4 separate regions of the Homo sapiens genome follow, and all the other regions are linked to region 4. The links come from fine-mapping of genetic effects on gene expression. A gene starts in region 4. Each other region holds a variant in brackets. All regions are shown on one strand. Distances are between the middles of the regions.

Region 1 (2,692 bases), 31 kb after region 4:
TCTTTGCCAGGGAGATAAGGAAAATTTACCCAGGGCAAGGATCACCTTGCTGTTCCACACCCCTTCCTAACATTCATCTCTGGGATGGCCCTGACTCCCTTCCAGGTTAACGACTGAAAGAGGAGAGATGTAAGAAACAGGAAGGAGCTTATTGACAGGCACAGGTATAAAATCCAGTGGATGGTGCTCTCTAGATGTGGTTGTTTGCTAATACCAACACGCCCTGCTAGATGCCTTCCTGGGTTCCTCAGGTACATGCACAGCTGGGAACTTCTGATTGAGTTGCCTTTGAGGTGCGCAATACTGTTCTCACGTAGTCCATTTCACTCCACATATGACCCCTCCTTCAGGCCCCTACCATGAGCATCCAAAGGCCCATCACTCTATTGGGGTCATATAAACCTACTAGGCAGTCTCCTGTAGTAGCACTTAAAAGGGCTTCAGGCTGCACATGATACTTATGTTACTCTCCAGCCAGAGAGCATCACATACCTTTCTTCTGCCTTTAATGAGATTTGTTTCCATTGTAGCCTCTTACCTCTGCCATTCAGTCTATTCCCTGTGGACTTTTTAAGGTACACATCTGGCATCAGCTTCTGTACCTAACAAACTTCGAGGGCCAAGTCCTATCACTTGACTTACATCAAGAGGGAAGAACCACCTCTTTTTCTTTCCCAGTGCATGGGGGTGTGTTTGTGTGTGGGTGTGTCTGTGTATATCCAGCAATGGAGGGAGGGTGGATGGTAAAGCACTCCAGAAAATTTATCTACACCCTCAGCTTGGAAGAGGGTGACAGGCTGAGAGTTGCAAATCCAGTCTTGCCACTCTCTTAGTAAGTCTGCATACATAGTGCATCACCTCATATTGGAATGTGGCCACATATAGCATGACAGGAGGCACCTCTTCACAAAGCAGCAGGAGAGAGAATGAGTGCCAGCAGGGGAAATGCCAGATGCTTATAAAACCATCAGATCTTGTGAGAACTCACTATCACTAGAACAGCATGGGGGAAACCACCCCCATGATTCAATTACCTCCACCTGGTCCCACCCTGGACACATGGGGATTATAACAACTCAAGGTGAGATGTGGGTGGGGACACAAAGCCAAACCATATAATTCCATCCCTCACCCCTCCCACATCTCATGTCCTCCCATTTCAGAAGACAATCATGCCCTTCCAACAGTCCCACAAAGTCTTAACTCATTCCAGCATTAACCCAAAAGTCCAAGTCCAAAGTCTCATCTGAGACAAGACATGTCCTTTCCACCTATGAGCCAGTGAAATCGAAACCAAGTTAGTTACTTCCTAGATACAATGGAGGTGCAGACATTGGGTAAATACAGCTGCTGCAAATGGGAGAAATTGGCCAAAACAAAGGGGCAGTCATTAAACCTTAAAGTTCCAATATGATCTCCTTTGACTCCATGTCTTACATCCAGGGCACGTTGATGCAAGAGTTGGACTCTCATAGCCTTGCATAGTTACACCCCTGTGGCTTTGCAGGGTAA[G/A]GCCCCTCCTCCTAGCTGCTTTCCCAGGTTGGCATTGAGTGTCTGTGCTTTTCCAGATGCACAGTGCAAGCTGTCAGTGAATCTACCATTCTGGAGTCTGGAGGACGGTGGCCCTCTTTCACAACTCCACCAGGCCCTGCCCCAGTGGGGACTCTGCATGTGGGCTCCAGCCCCACATTTCCCTTATGCACTGCCCTAGCAGAGGTTTTCCATGAGGGCTCTGTCCCTTCAGCAGACTTCTGTCTGTATATCCAGGTGTTTCCATACATCCTCTGATATCTAGGCAGAGGTTCCCAAACCTCAATTATTGACTTCTCTGTACCTGCAGGTCAAATACTACATGCAAGCCACCAAGGCTTTGGGCTTACACCCTCTGAAGCAATGGCCTGAGCTATACCCTGGCCCCTTTTAGCCAATGCTGGGAGGCAGGACACCAAGTCCTGAGGCTGCACAGAGCAGCAGGGAGGCCCTGGAGTCAGCCCATAAAATCATTTTTCTCTCTTTGGCCTCCAGGCCTGTGACGGGAAGTGCTGCTGTGGTTTCTGACATGCCCCGGAGACATTTTCCCCATTGTCTTGGTAATTAACCTTGGGCTCCTTGTTACATATGCTAATTTCTGCAGCAGGCTTGAATTTCTCCCAAGAAAATCTTTATTTCTTTTCTATCGCATCATCAGACTGCAAATTTTCCAAACTTTTATGCTCTGCTTCCTCTTGAACGCTTTGTTGTTTAGAAATTTCTTCTGCCAGTTACCCTAAATCATCTCTCTTAAGTTCAAAGTTCCAGAGATCTCTAGGGTGGGGCAAAATGCTGCCAGCCTCTTTGCTAAAGCATAACAAGAGTGACTTTTACTCCAGTTCCTAACAAGTTCCTCATCTCCGTTTGAGACCCCCTCAGTCTAGACTTCATTGTACATGTCACTATTAGCATTTTGGGCAAAGCCATTCAACGAGTCTCTACGAAGTTCCAAACTTTCCCACATTTTCCTTTCTTCTTCTGAGCCCTCAAAATTGTTTCAACCTCTGCCTGTTACCCAGTTCCAAAGTCATTTCCATGTTTTGAGGTATCCTTATAGCCGCACCCAACTTCTGGTACCAATTTACTGTACTAGCCCATTCTCATACTGCTCTGAAGAAATATCCAAGACTGGGTAATTTATAGAGAAAAGAGATTTAATTGG
Region 2 (2,692 bases), 27 kb after region 4:
TTAGTTTATATAAGATTAGCTGTGTATGGTGTCAGACATTGTACAGCATCTGGAGTTTTGGGGGGAGCATCTGTTTTCTTTTGTTGGGGAAGTCATTAAGAATTTTAAATGAGATTTTTCAATGGATAGGAGGAAGTGCTGTGTACATGTTTTCACTGGAAAGGGATTCAAGAAAGAGAGTGTCTGTAATCCCAGCACTTTGGTAGGCCAAGCTGGGTGGATCACCTGAGGTCAGGAGTTCAAGATCAGCCTGGCCAACATAGTGAAACCCCATCTCTACTAAAAATACAAAAATTAGCCAGGCATGGTGGCAGACACCTGTAATCCCAGCTACTTGGGAGGCTGAGGCAGGAGAATCGCTTGAACCTGGGAGGCGAAGGTTGCAGTGAGCCTAGACGGTGCCACTGCACTCCAGCCTGGGCAACAGAGCAAGACTCCATCTCAAAAAAAAAAAAAAGAAAAGAAAAAGAAAAGAAAAGAAAGAAAGAAAGAGAACGTGAATGATGAGGGAAAATTATCTTCTCATGAGTGAGAGTACTCAGGAAGCAAATAATGATGAAAACTGATGAAAATCAAAAAGATTGGCCACAAGTTCCAGAGCTGTTTGGAGGTCTAGAGAAGGTAAGGGCATGAATTCAGGGGAAATGGATTATCAACCGAAAAATTATGAAAGATGAACAAGTATCTTTTCTGTATTCTTTGACTCAGTCCTATAGATTGCTCCTGTAATTGCTATCTCTACAAGACAGGAATAACAGATTTCTCTACTGCATAACTAACAAAACTAAGTGTTGAATAGATTTAACAATTTCCCTTAGTTGACAAATGATGAGACTGAATTTCAAACCCAGGGAACATCATGGTTGAGGATGAACTGCAATCCAGAATTATATTTGTACCATTTGGACTATTTCAAAAATCACAGATGAAAGTTGTATTGCTTTAAAAGTAGAAAAATAACAACAACAAATACATATATGTGAAATTATTACAAGTCTTAAGTATGTAAATATTGAATACTATATAACATATCAGGATAATTAGAATGAAAATAAACTTCTGATTTAGTTGTCAGAGCACTTCTTTAAAAGCCAAGCAATCTCAGGATTAATTAGGTATAAACAGGATTAGGGAATTATTCAGCTATAAAGTTATGATACATTTTCCCTTTCTTTGCATTAAATAATGGTGCAAATTCCTTTAATTTTGCATATTTTCAAATTAATTTTCACAATCGAATAAAGGCTATTTCTATACGTATCTATCTGAGCACTAAGACTGCCTGGAATATTATTATTGAGGTTCTAGGAATAAAAGGCAGAATTTTGCTCTCTCATACCTATCATTCCTCTGATGGGTTGACCTCATAAAAATGAATATGCAAAAAGGAAACTGTACTTTGAAGTGATTTATTAATTGAGCTTGTGTGAGACATAGTTGTTTAAAGCTGTTTTAAAAAATTCAGATTTCATCTTGCTTTGTTCAATTTTCATGCTGGTAGAAATGTTTAAAGCTGAAAGGTTTTCATTTGTGTTTCTGCTGACTTGCACATTTCACACAATAGGCCTTGTTATCAAGGGTCTGATCGTG[G/A]TCAATGCAATTTGCAGTGTTAGCTAATTTTCTAAACTAGTAGTGAATTTAAAATTAATTACAGACCAGTTTTGGTTCATTAGTGTCCATGTTTTATGCCTGTTTGTTTGTTTTTAATTGAGTACAGGGGACAAAGACAAAAGTGCTGCTTTCTCTCATATGCAGAAATAAAGTGGTACAATCTTTAACTGAAACAATGAACATAGTAGCAGCAAAGACAATAGAGTCATATGATTTGGCAATGGGAGAACCCATGCATCTATCCTATTTGCTACTTGTACGTCTTAAAGCATGGAGTAAAGTGGGAGATAGTAAAATAATCAAGTGAAAAAAAAAGAGAATAAGTTTTGCAATTTCATGCATATTTACTAAAGGGGGTCAAAGTTCTAAGCATTCCATATAATCAAATAATTTATTAGGTTTGTGAGGTTAACTGCTTACAGCTAAGCAACTTGTAGCTTAATTGCTTCTCATACTACAGGAGAGTTAGAAATATCTTTCTGGCCCCTATCCCCAAAGCGGGAAACCCAGCCTGAGGCACTGAAAGTGCTATACAGGAAACAGTAGGTAGCATAATTCAGCCATGTCAAATTAATGTTGCTATCCTGGGAAAATAGATAGCATAATGAAGGAAGAATAAGGACATTTAGGAGAGAGTCCTTCAGTAGGACATCCCTATTGGTTTCTATTTATGTGCAGAAAATAAGGATTTGTCTCCCATTAAAAATAATATTCTGGAAATTAATTCTGAAAGACTAGATATACATTTTAGATTTACCCATTCCTACTTTGTCTTCATTATCTGGTTACTTTTCTCTATTGTAGCTAAGTTTCCAAAAGGAGACAGGGAAGGAACATTATACATAACTTGAGCAAGGAAAAGTTGAGTTGAATATATTTCTCTGTGTGGAGTTCAACTTATAAATCTCCTTGTAAGCCAAATCTGTGACTGCTCTTTGCTCCTGTGGTTTGAAGCCACCCTCACTCCTGTAAGATGATAGATTATCAGCAGAGAAAAACAGCAGGCTTGTGTTCACAATGATAGATAATGGGTGGAATTAAAGTGTGTTCCTGAACTTGGTTGAACAACCAGCCTCATCAC
Region 3 (2,692 bases), 460 kb after region 4:
TCCTTGACAAGTTATATACAAAAATGAGTAAGTATATTAAAAACATTTAAAGGTGTTATCATTAAAATTATAATGAAATGATTTGACTAGATATAAATAAACTATAATCATGGGGATAATAGAAAGTTGTACATCAGAAACCAATATTTTTTTGACCATTGCTTTTACAGAACACTATTTCAAATAAGAGATAGCATAGTTTATGTAGAGCATGGGCCAGAAATGGAAATACCTAAACGAGCTGCTAAAAATGATAATTGTATGAATTGTGCTGTGCATAAGACAATAGGAAATGGTGATGGCAGTGACATATTGGTTAATGCATAATTTTCTTAAAGAATTTTAATTTAATTTTAAAATTTAGATATAATGAATACATACACACACACACACACACACACACACACACACCACTGTGAGTACTAGAAAACTTATCTGTAGGCTTAATTTTATCTATAAAACAGACCTTCATATAATTTCTCATTTAGAGTTGGTTTCAGGAAATATAATCCCTCCTCCTCTGTTTCCTTCTTTCTGAAGGTCTTTGTTGGCTTTTCAGTTCTATAACTCGAAGGACAATATATATACCTCTGTAACTCAATGAGTTAAAAGTCTGTTTATCTACTACCCATTGCAGATGAGTCTGTTTTTCTGAATAGACACTATTATTAAACACACAATTCTAAATTTGATCGATAAATTTAGAAGGCTAGTGAGTGAATATTCCTTGATTCCTGTTACATTTAAGGCAAAGATGATCTGATAGTATAAAGACCTTTTCATTAATGCTTTAAGAAAATATATGATTTTTCTTTATTGTAGTACACAATTAAGGGTATCCATCACCCAAATAAAGTAAAAGATCGTATATTGTCATTAGGGAATATGGTGAATTATTAATGTATTTTTCTCAGTTATCTATGTGTTAAGCAAAGCTTATAATATGTTACAAGGTTACATCCATTTTGGATGTGTGCATAATTTCTTAGTCACATAAAATAAGTGCGGAGAATGCAGAAAATATGCTGATGGCTGTGTTTTTAATGTTCATGTTACTGAATGTTAATAAAATTATTTGATCTGGAGGTCAAAAACATTTTTTTTTAATTTCCAAAACTTTCTAGAGCTGTCTGCACTTTTCATTTGGAAAAAGAAATTGTGTATGGAAAATATTTAGCTGTTTGGGAAAAACAATTGCTACATAATACATCAGTTACCACACAACTGTCATACAATACAATGAAGTGGTTACCAAAACAACATGTTTAATTTATTTGTTTGTTTTATGCACATAAATATTTTCCACATGAATAATGTCAAAATGTCTTCTGATTCAAATTGAAATTCACAAACACCGTTTCTTTCTTCTCCAAACAAATTTTAACATGTAAGATTTACTTAGAAGTTCTTGCTGAGACATGAAAGTTAA[G/A]GTGAAGCCTATTAAATCATTTGCTCAGGTAAGATACCTTATCACAATTCACAGCACTGCATCTACAATATTCTCTCCTAGGAATAATTTTTTTTCAAAGATTTTTGAACTTCAATATATTAGTGTAGCATAAAAAGGAGTTAAAGAGTTCTAGTGTTTGGGAAGGCAACTGAGAAAATTGTGAGTTCTCAACATAAAAACTTTAAGAAACCACCTACAGGTGTTTTGCAAAGTTTTTTGTCCTTTTTTTTCAGAAGTAACTGCTGCCAACATATATGTTGAGATTTTTTTTGAAATGGTTAGCTCTTAGTAGAGTTACAAAGAGTTGATCACAATCCCATCAACTGCCACCTATACTTGTATTTCAAAAGTGTCTGGTGATCATTTGTGAATCATATAATTTTCAAGACCAAGATCATACGTTTGGTATCATGAGAACCATACTGTAGCAAATCAAAGTGCAACAAATGTAAGTATCAATAACATATCTCAATGATTTTAAGATCAACTTGTTGATTTTGTTAATTTCTGGCCCGATTTTGAAGTTAAATGATTCCTCATCCCTTGAAAAAACAGAAATGTACTCAAAAACACTTTTTATTGTATCTTTGTCTGCTGTCAATTGTTTCTGTATATTGTGAAATGAAACTAACCCATCGGCCAAGGTGAATGAGAGAAGGGTGGTCACACCCACTTTGTTCCCAGAGAGGGCAGCTTCAGAGGAACATCTTGTTTGCACCTCTGAGTTAAGATGGTTCCTGTAACTGGAGCTCAAGCTCTGGTGGGAAAACTCCTTCCACCAGCGGCCTGAAAGGGGCAGCTAAAAAAGACTTCTGGTTTGAGCTTGGAAACTACCCAGCCAGAACTTAACTGTATTCAACCAATTAGGACTGAACAAGTTGGAATTCTTCATATGCATATGTGGACCTCATTGAGGGCTGAGGCAGAGACTTTCCCTATTCATTAAGCAAGGCCTGCTCTTTGTTATCTGGAGCTTACTTCACATTTGTTTCAAAGGTGTCTCCCCTATCTGAATATTGCTTTTTGTTTTTGTTTTAAAAACAAAACTCTCCTTTGTTTTTCCTCTGAAGACCTCATTGGCTTTTGTTAACAATATCAGGTATTTCTTTGATTGCAACATCATTGGGATCTAAAGAGTTTATGTAGAATATATTTCCACTCATTTGAGAATATTGGACATGAATACTTCTAAAGGTAAAAAAAGAGCTAGAGCTTTTTTTTGTTGTTGGTTTTGTGTTGTTT
Region 4 (2,671 bases):
TTCACATCACTGTATCACCTAATATACGAAGTTGGTAGTTATTCCAGGTATTGCAAATGGTACTTAATAAAAAGTCAATAAATCAAAAAAATGTTCAGTCACCCAGAGTAAGGAAAAATGTATTATGTCATCTGATAAATTAGAGGTAAAGTAGATTATGTGTTGAAATGAAGTGTACAGCAGCAGAGCAGAGATGACTTCTTTGTTATCCTCCCCAAAATAATTTTGCTGGCATTGGAATAGTCAACACAAAGGAATGAAGGAGTTACGTCCAGGTCTGGACTGAGCACCCTATTTGTACCAATCACTGTCTAGCTACCACTGCTCCTTTTGTGGCAGAATTAGACCCTTACAAAGAAGTGATTCTTTGGTTGAACCAGCAACAACCTAGACTAAACATATAATGGGGAACACAATTTTTAAATAACTTGAATGAATTTAATTCCTGGTAGCAATCAATGAAAACATCAAGTGTTATATAAACACATTATAGGCATCGCATATGAGCACCATAAAACTTGTACATTCCTTTACATTCACTTTTTTCCCCGCTTAAGATGATATTAAGCTAAATGCGGGAAACAACACAATTATCTTTACATGTTAAACTTCTATGAAGACAATATATACCCCATCTCTTTCTTTAGTTGGCAAAAAATAATCATAAGGGAGAAAAATCCATTATGAAAACTAAATCTGGGCACTTCCCTTGGGTTTATTTTTCTACTGGGGTTAATCAAAAAAGCATTTGTTTCACATCTCTTTACTGATGGGGTGTTCTTAAAGAAGCAACTGACCCAGACCCAACTTCATTTCCTAACTGGAGCCTGTTATCCCCTCCCTCCCCATTCCGAGACTGCCAGTTTCCTGTATGGATGCCTACAAGTAGTATATCGCCCAACTGAAGAGCAACAATCGAAGCAGAGGAAACCAACAAGAAATCCATCAGATTTCCAAGTTTATTGACACTCAAGGGCCAGCTAGCCTCCTCGAAACGCTCAGGATCCTGCTGAGGAAAACCCGAGGGTGGGGGAATCGTGAGGATAGGGAAGCAACCAGACTGCCTAGGTGAGCCTAAGGTGAGGTGAGTCAGAAGCAAGAGGGAGGCAGAGAAGTGGTGCCGCGAGGGCGGTCACCTGTGGGACCACTTGATCCAGCCCCGCCTCCAGGGACAGTAGGCAGAATCGCGGCCAGCAGGCCTCGAAAGACGCCGAGAAAACGCAGAGCTGGGCCCCTTCAGCCCGGCCTGGAACTCACCATCCACGGTTTTCTTCTTGAAGAGGGACGCCATGGTTAAAGACTGCGCCCGGGCGGCCCGGCTCGGCCCGGTCCGGCCCAACGCTGGCAAAGGACAGGAGGAAAAGGACAGGACCTTGGCGGGTTCGGGGTGGCGGAGCGGAGAGACAGCAGGAGGAGGTCGGGGTCGCCAGGCAGGACCCGCGGAAGGCTTGTATCCGCAGCTACCGCAGCCGCGTCACCCGGAGCTCAGGTGACCGGGAACTAACACACTTTTTGGAGAAGTCACTTCTAGGCGGCGCCTGCGCGTTGTGTGGCGCCTGCGCACTACGGAGTTTGAAGCCGCGGCCGCTTTCCTCACGTCTGCGGCTGCCAGTTCCTCCTGCACCGGGAGTTGGCAGCGGGGCGAGTCTGGAGCTGGCGGGGATAGGAGAGCGTGGGGCCACGGCTTCTGTGCGCGGGTTGGGTGATGATTGAGGACAGTGATCAGCCTTGCTTAGCGCTTCACCCCTTGCCCCGGGGAAAGCTGGATGAGGGATCTCCGGGCTCCTAGACTAAGTGTGGGTTGTCCCGGAACCGCCTGTACCCACTCCGAGTTGATTTATTACGGTCCCATTGCTGTTAGTATTTTTGTTGTTGTTGTTGTTGTTGTTTGTTTGTTTTTACTCGAGTAATCCAGGAACTGGCGGAAACGTTGAGTTCCGTACCCGGTGATTGTTGGCCCCTGGAGTTCGCGGTCCTTTCGGCACTGACTGACTCGGCGACCTCCCCCGCACCGCGCAGACCCCTGCAGGACCCTAGCCGCTCACCTGCCGCCCCCGGCTCCAGACTCCGACGACCCAGCGTGGGTCTCCGGGGATCCAGTGTCTAGAGTTGGGGGGGTCTCGAGGACGAAGGGAAGTTTTTTAATGCTACACTTTTTGTTTAAGGTTCTTGCCTGGAAACATTAAAACACACACACACACACACACACACACACACACACACAAATTTGTAGGCTGGTCTAAATGTCTCCAGCTCTATTTCTTAATTTCTTGTAAATCATGAATCATAAAGTGTCATGGCTATACGGTGATCCTATTAGAATTCCTCACAGCCGTTTATTTGGGCTTTTTGTGAAAAACTGCATATCATGTTAAAGAAAAAATGTAATGAATTATTTAAAGAATCCTTGCATGTATAAAATGGAAAATACAACCTATGCGTGCGTACCTGTATATAGTCTCTACTGTTTAAAGCAACACTGCCTTCCACAGGATAAAAATAATGGTAGCATTTTTTTTTTCATAAATATTATCTCTGATATGGAAGAAATCCAGAAGTGGCTAATAATATTGACACTATAACAATAATGTCAATATTATTAGCCACTTCTGGATTTATGAATCATGTCTCAAGGATTATTATTTATGATAATCAGGCCAGCCTTTCCCAT

The links. PIP is the estimated chance that this variant, and not a neighbour inherited with it, causes the effect.
Region 1: its variant is fine-mapped to the expression of CHMP2B in transverse colon (GTEx, PIP 0.96).
Region 2: its variant is fine-mapped to the expression of CHMP2B in whole blood (TOPMed, PIP above 0.99).
Region 3: its variant is fine-mapped to the expression of CHMP2B in left ventricle (GTEx, PIP 0.98).

What each region holds. Positions count from the first base shown.
Region 1 is chr3:87,195,176-87,197,867 of GRCh38, reverse strand. No RefSeq gene overlaps it. Among named protein-coding and RNA genes, the nearest start is that of MIR4795, 30 kb to the left of the region's middle. RefSeq lists an enhancer at 739-1,270. The variant G/A (reference allele first, on the strand shown) is at 1,513.
Region 2 is chr3:87,199,113-87,201,804 of GRCh38, reverse strand. No RefSeq gene overlaps it. Among named protein-coding and RNA genes, the nearest start is that of MIR4795, 26 kb to the left of the region's middle. The variant G/A (reference allele first, on the strand shown) is at 1,591.
Region 3 is chr3:86,764,867-86,767,558 of GRCh38, reverse strand. No RefSeq gene overlaps it. Among named protein-coding and RNA genes, the nearest start is that of VGLL3, 220 kb to the left of the region's middle. The variant G/A (reference allele first, on the strand shown) is at 1,430.
Region 4 is chr3:87,226,143-87,228,813 of GRCh38, reverse strand. CHMP2B (charged multivesicular body protein 2B) reads right to left here and starts at 1,505. Exons shown (of 6, transcript NM_014043.4): 1 at 1,258-1,505. The coding sequence starts at 1,291. MIR4795 (microRNA 4795) reads left to right here and starts at 2,537; the gene lies at 2,537-2,625. RefSeq lists enhancers at 1,294-1,413, 1,484-1,553, 1,604-1,653, 1,744-1,803, 1,914-2,053.